Regions from separate parts of the Homo sapiens genome. Here region 2 is linked to region 1. Evidence: fine-mapped expression QTL. A gene starts in region 1. The other region holds a variant in brackets. All regions are shown on one strand. Distances are from middle to middle.

Region 1 (2,911 bases):
TGTAGTCCCAGCTACTCAGGAGGCTGAGACAAGAGAATTGCTTGAACCCGGGAGGCGGAGGTTACAGTGAGCCAAGGTTGCGCCACTGCACTCCAGCCTGGGCAACAGAGTGAGACTCAGTCTCAAAAAAAAATTAGCCAGGTGTGGTTGGTGGGCATCTGTAATTCCAGCTACTCAGGAGGCTGAGACAGGAAAATTGCTTGAACTCCAGAGGCAGAGGCTGCAGTTAGCCAAGATCAAACCACTGCACTCCAGCCTGGGTGATAGAGTGACACTCCGTCTCAGAATATACATTTTAAAAATATATATCTAAAATCCTTTTTTGAGGGGTAGGAGGATGGAGGTGGGATGTATGTTGCTATTGCACTGGCCAGCAGAACCTTGAGAAGTGGACTGATTAAAAAAATGTAGGCCTGGCATAGTGGCTAACACCTGTAATCACAGCACTTTGGGAGGCAAAGGTGGGAGGATGGCTTGAGCCCGAGAATTCGAGAACAACTTGGTCAACAAAGCGAAACCCCCGTTTCTACAAAAAAGTTAACGGGGCATGGTGCGTGCACATGTGGTCCCAGCTACATGGGAGGCTGAAGCAGGAAGATCGCTTGTGCCTCGGAGATGAAGGTTGCAGTGAGCTGTGTTTGCGCCACTGTGCTGCATGCAGCCTGGGTGACAGAATGAGACCCTGTCTCAAAAAATAAAATAAAATGGAATGCAGATCGAAATGTTCAATATAGGCTGTCCATAATCTCCTACCTCATACCCTGAACCAAAATATTGCTACTCTTGGTTAAGTTCAGAAAACTGAATGCTGAGTTAAACCATCCGTTCCTAGCCTTGAACATACAAAACCAACATTAACAGTATTTATGTATTTACTATTAATTATAAACAACTGTGAATTACCCAATGGTTGCTATTTGCCAATATATATCTAGATTAATTATTATTATTTTTTGAGATGGAGTCTTGCTCTGTCACCAGGCTGGAGTGCAGTGGCAGAATCTCGGCTCACTGCAACCTCCCACTCCCTGGTTCAAGCGATTCTCCTGCCTCAGCCTCCCGGGTAGCTGGGATTACAGGCGCGCGCCACCACGCCCGGCTAATTTTTGTACTTTTGGTAGAGGCGGGGTTTCACCATATTGGCCAGGATGGTCTTGATCTCCTGACCTCGTGATCCGCCTGCCTCGGCCTCCCAAAGTGCTGAGATTGCAGGCGTGAGCCACCGCGCCCGGCCTAGATTATTCTCACTTAATTATTACTAAGGTCTGTATATAATTTCTATTTTATAAATTAGAACACTAAGGCTCAGAAAAGTGGAGTGAGTTGCCCAAACTCACACAGTGAAGCCGGGATCAAAGCTAATTACAGTACTGTCTAATTTTAAAATCTATACTTCTAAGCATCTGGCTACACTATATCTCTAAAAGTTTTACGTAGTTCAAATGTGAGCAGCGTTCGTCTACGCAGAAAAACTGAATAAGCAGCATTAACCGCGGGCAGAAACAGAACAGAAACCACTACCTTGGCGGCCGCCCGCCCCCGGGCGTCGCCTACGTCATAACACTGCGCGGCCGCCCCTCGCGCACCACGTGCTAGGGGAGCGGGCGGGCAGATGGCTGTGTCTGTAAGCGGGAGGCGTGCCCGGTTCATCCAAGGCGCAAGATGGCGCTGCTTTTTGCACGTTCTTTGCGCTTGTGCCGCTGGGGAGCCAAACGATTGGGAGTTGCCTCCACAGAGGCCCAGAGAGGTAGGATTATCTCTTTTTACTCTTTTACCTCCAGAATGGCTGCCGTCTATTATTCCCAGACCCCACTCCGAGAAGCAACTCCAACCCTCTCGGGTCTTTTCCTTCCCCACCTGCCTTGGTCTTAAGATTCCAAACCTGTGATACCATTTGGTTTCTTTAAATTCCGGGACTTACTCAATCCGAGTTTTTCAGCTCCGTGAGCTATCCGTAGTAAAGCGACCTCGCGACTCTCTTGCCCGCTTGGCATTCTGACTCTTCCCTAGTTGCTCGTGTATCATGGCTGCCTGCCTCATATCTGAATATATCACCAGCCCTAGGGTTCTAGCCCCTGTTATTATCCCGTCTTTTTGCTCTGCCCGCAGGCGTCAGTTTCAAACTGGAAGAAAAAACCGCCCACAGCAGCCTGGCACTCTTCAGAGATGATACGGGTGTCAAATATGGCTTGGTGGGATTGGAGCCCACCAAGGTGGCCTTGAATGTGGAGCGCTTCCGGGAGTGGGCAGTGGTGCTGGCAGACACAGCGGTCACCAGTGGCAGACACTACTGGGAAGTGACAGTGAAGCGCTCCCAGCAGTTCCGGATAGGAGTGGCAGATGTGGACATGTCCCGGGATAGCTGCATTGGTGTTGATGATCGTTCCTGGGTGTTCACCTATGCCCAGCGCAAGTGGTACACCATGTTGGCCAACGAGAAAGCCCCAGTTGAGGGTATTGGGCAGCCAGAGAAGGTGGGGCTGTTGCTGGAGTATGAGGCCCAGAAGCTGAGCCTGGTGGATGTGAGCCAGGTCTCTGTGGTTCACACGCTACAGACAGATTTCCGGGGTCCAGTGGTGCCTGCCTTTGCTCTCTGGGATGGGGAGCTGCTGACCCATTCAGGGCTTGAGGTGCCCGAGGGCCTCTAGTATGTCCATTACTGGAGTCCCTAATCACGCCTTTGGCCAGCCTCCTTTTGAAAGTGTCCGAAGCCTTTTTACTTTGCCTCAAGCAACCTCTAGCTCCCACAATTCAGTGTTGGGTCCTCTGTGCAATATCATGATCATCTTCCTCATCCCCTACCTTGTGAAAGCTAGGCATACAGCCAAACCCTCCTTTTCCCCACCCACCAACTACTGCCAATTTCCTAGGCTACCATGGGTGTATCTTCCTTGACCTGCTTCCTTCAGTC
Region 2 (2,911 bases), 30 kb after region 1:
GATGTATTATAATTATTTAACAAATTCCCTATTGGTGAATATTTGTCATTATTGCTAGAATGACCGTATTTCCTTGTTTGCCTGGGACATTCTAAGCTCATGCCACTTGTCCCAGCTTATTTATTTATTTATTTATTTGATGTGGGCGGCAAGCCACCCAGGCACCGAGGCAAGAGACAGAGGACACGAGCTGTTCCAGTATAATAAAATATAAAACAAGAATAGTTATACCAGATATAGATCTTAGATATGATTATATATGAATATCATTAATCATTAGTTTGTAGCAATTACTTTTTATTCCAATATTATGATAATCCTCGCTCTATAATCATAGCCTAGGAAAAACCACGCCATACAGAGATAGGAGCTGAGGGGACATAGTGAGGTGTGACCAGAAGACAAGAGTGCGAGCCTTCTGTTATGCCCGGACAGGGCCACCAGAGGGCTCCTTCGTCTAGCGGTGACGCCAGCGTCTGGGAAGACGCCCGTTATCAGGGGGATCGTGGTCCAGCGGTAGCAAAGGTGTCAAGGAACAACACCCGCTACTTAGCAGACCGGGAAGCGGGGGGGGGGGAGGTCTCCCTTTCCCCAGGGGAGTTTAGAGAAGACTCTGCTCCTCCACCTCTTGTGGAGGGCCTGACATCAGTCAGGCTTGCCCGAAGTTATCGGGAGGCCTAACCGTCTCCCTGTGATGCTGTGCTTCACTAGTCGCACTCCTAGTCTGCCTTCATGTTCCATCCTGTACACCTGGCTCTGCCTTCCAGATAGCAGTAGTAAATTAGTGAAAATACTAATAGTCCCTGATATGCAGAAATAATGATGTAAGCTGTCTCTCTCTCTGCTTCCTCTCCCTCTCTGCCTCAGCTGCCAGGCAGGGAAGGGCCCCCTGTCCAGTGGACACGTGACCCACGTGACCTTACCTATCATTGGAGGTGACTCACATTCTTTACCCTGCCCCTTCTGCCTTGTATCCAATAAATAACAGCGCAGCCAGACATTCGGGGCCACTACCGGTGTCCGCGCATTGGTGGTAGTGGTCCCCCGGGCCCAGCTGCCTTTTCTCTTGTCTCTTTGTCTTGTGTCTTTATTTCTACACTCTCTCATCGCTGCACACAGGGAGAGACCTACCGACCCTGTGGGGCTGGTCCCTACATCGGGGCTGAGAGTTGACGAATGCCCCATTGTTTAGAGGGGCCTGGGGCCGGCCCCTCATCCTGTTTCCCTGATTTTTAAAAGGCCGTAAAGGATGGCCATCAATATCAAATCTGAAATGGCATTGAGATGCCCAGTGAAGACCCTTTTGGCATCGTGGGCATACAGTAGAAGGTGGGGCATCTTGTTGCTGAAAAGTTTTTTGTTGTTGTTGTTGGTGATGTAAAGGATGGCGACCTGCACGCCGAGGGCAATTTCTTTTTGCATGTCCATTCTGGCC[G/A]CATATGAAGCATTGGCCAGAGAATTGTCCAGGCATTCGAATAGAGGCCATAGCTTGTGCCATAATCATTGCTGTATGGAGAGTTCCTCCCACCCCTTCACAGGCTTTAATGTAGGAGGTGAGTATATCACCACCTGGTGGAATTTTACCTTTGACGGGGCGAATAGCCGCCTGACAATCTGGATTTGCTTGTTCATAAGCCATAAGTTCTACAACAAGTCTTTGGCCGTGGCTATCAGGAATAGCCTTTTCTGCTGCGTCTTGAAGATGAGCAATAAAGTCTGGGTAGGGCTCATGTTGTCCCTGTCTGACGGCTGTGAAAGATGGGCATACTTTACCATCATCTTGAATTTTGTCCCAAGCATCTAAGCAACATTTTCGCAGTTGTTCAATAACCTCATCATTTAGTATAGTTTGGTGTCGGATTGCAGCCCATTGACCCATTCCCAGTAACTGGTCAGCCGTAACGTTAACAAGAGGATTAGAGCCCTGATTAAGACGAATGCGTTCCTGGACAGCATCAACCCACCAAGTCCTGAATTGTAAATATTGGGATTTAGATAAGACTGATTTTGCCAAAATTTCCCAATCATAGGGTACCAAACGTTTATCTTCTGCTAAGGCTTTTAATGTGGAATGGACAAAAGGAGAGTTGGTGCCATATTGTTTCACTGATTCCTTAAAATCTTTGAGGAATTTAAAAGAAAAACTTTCCTATGTAGCAGGGCGTAGCTGAACCTGGCCTGGATGGATGGTGTCAGGCTGAATTACCGCCTGAACAGCGGGAATGCCAGGTATTGGCTGTGCCCCAGGAGCAGGCAATTGCAGAGCCTGATTATTTACCCAAGCAGCCGATTCTCAGGCTGAGGGGCTTAATTGTCAGCCTCTTGATCTTGTTGAGCTGTGGGGTCAGCCGCCTGCTGGGCAGGATCAACAACAGGCTGTGGGTGGTTTTGTACTGCTGGGGTGGCAGGTACTGGGGGTTGTAAAATTACAGGAAATTGCCAAGCTTCGGGATCCCCATATTCCCTTGCCTGAACTATAGCCCTCGTAAGCAGAGTGTCATCTTCAGGGATGTATGTAATTTGTTGCTTATGAGCGGCAATGGTAGTATTGGCAACAGCAGTTGCGACCAGACCAGGAGCAGAAAAAGAGGTAGAATTTTGAATAGAAGGAGAGTCGAAAAACTGAAAGCCAGGGTGAGAGCAGATTACCTGCTGAGCAGGTCTTTCATGGGCCTGAAAACCAGGCTGCCACGGCAAGTGTGAACCAGGCTTCAAGGGAGCCTGTGACTCTAACTGAGTCCAATTTGTAGGAAAGGATCCAGGCTTCAAGGGAGCCTGTGACTCTACCCGAGTCTGATTTGTAGAAAAGGGACCAGGCTTCAAGGGAGCCTGTGACTCTAACTGAGTCTGATTTGTAGGAAAGGATCCAGGCTTTAAGGGAGCCTGTGACTCTAACTGAGTCCGATTAGGA

What was found. PIP is the estimated chance that this variant, and not a neighbour inherited with it, causes the effect.
Region 2: its variant is fine-mapped to the expression of SPRYD4 in whole blood (TOPMed, PIP above 0.99). The same link has a PIP of 0.9 or more in esophagus mucosa, lung and monocytes.

Annotation. Positions count from the first base shown.
Region 1 is chr12:56,466,930-56,469,840 of GRCh38, forward strand. SPRYD4 (SPRY domain containing 4) reads left to right here and starts at 1,649. Exons shown (of 2, transcript NM_207344.4): 1 at 1,649-1,747; 2 at 2,110-2,911. The coding sequence starts at 1,663. The coding sequence ends at 2,648. RefSeq lists enhancers at 1,317-1,386, 1,397-1,576, 1,897-1,946, 2,367-2,496.
Region 2 is chr12:56,496,430-56,499,340 of GRCh38, forward strand. No RefSeq gene overlaps it. Among named protein-coding and RNA genes, the nearest start is that of GLS2, 9.7 kb to the left of the region's middle. The variant G/A (reference allele first, on the strand shown) is at 1,436.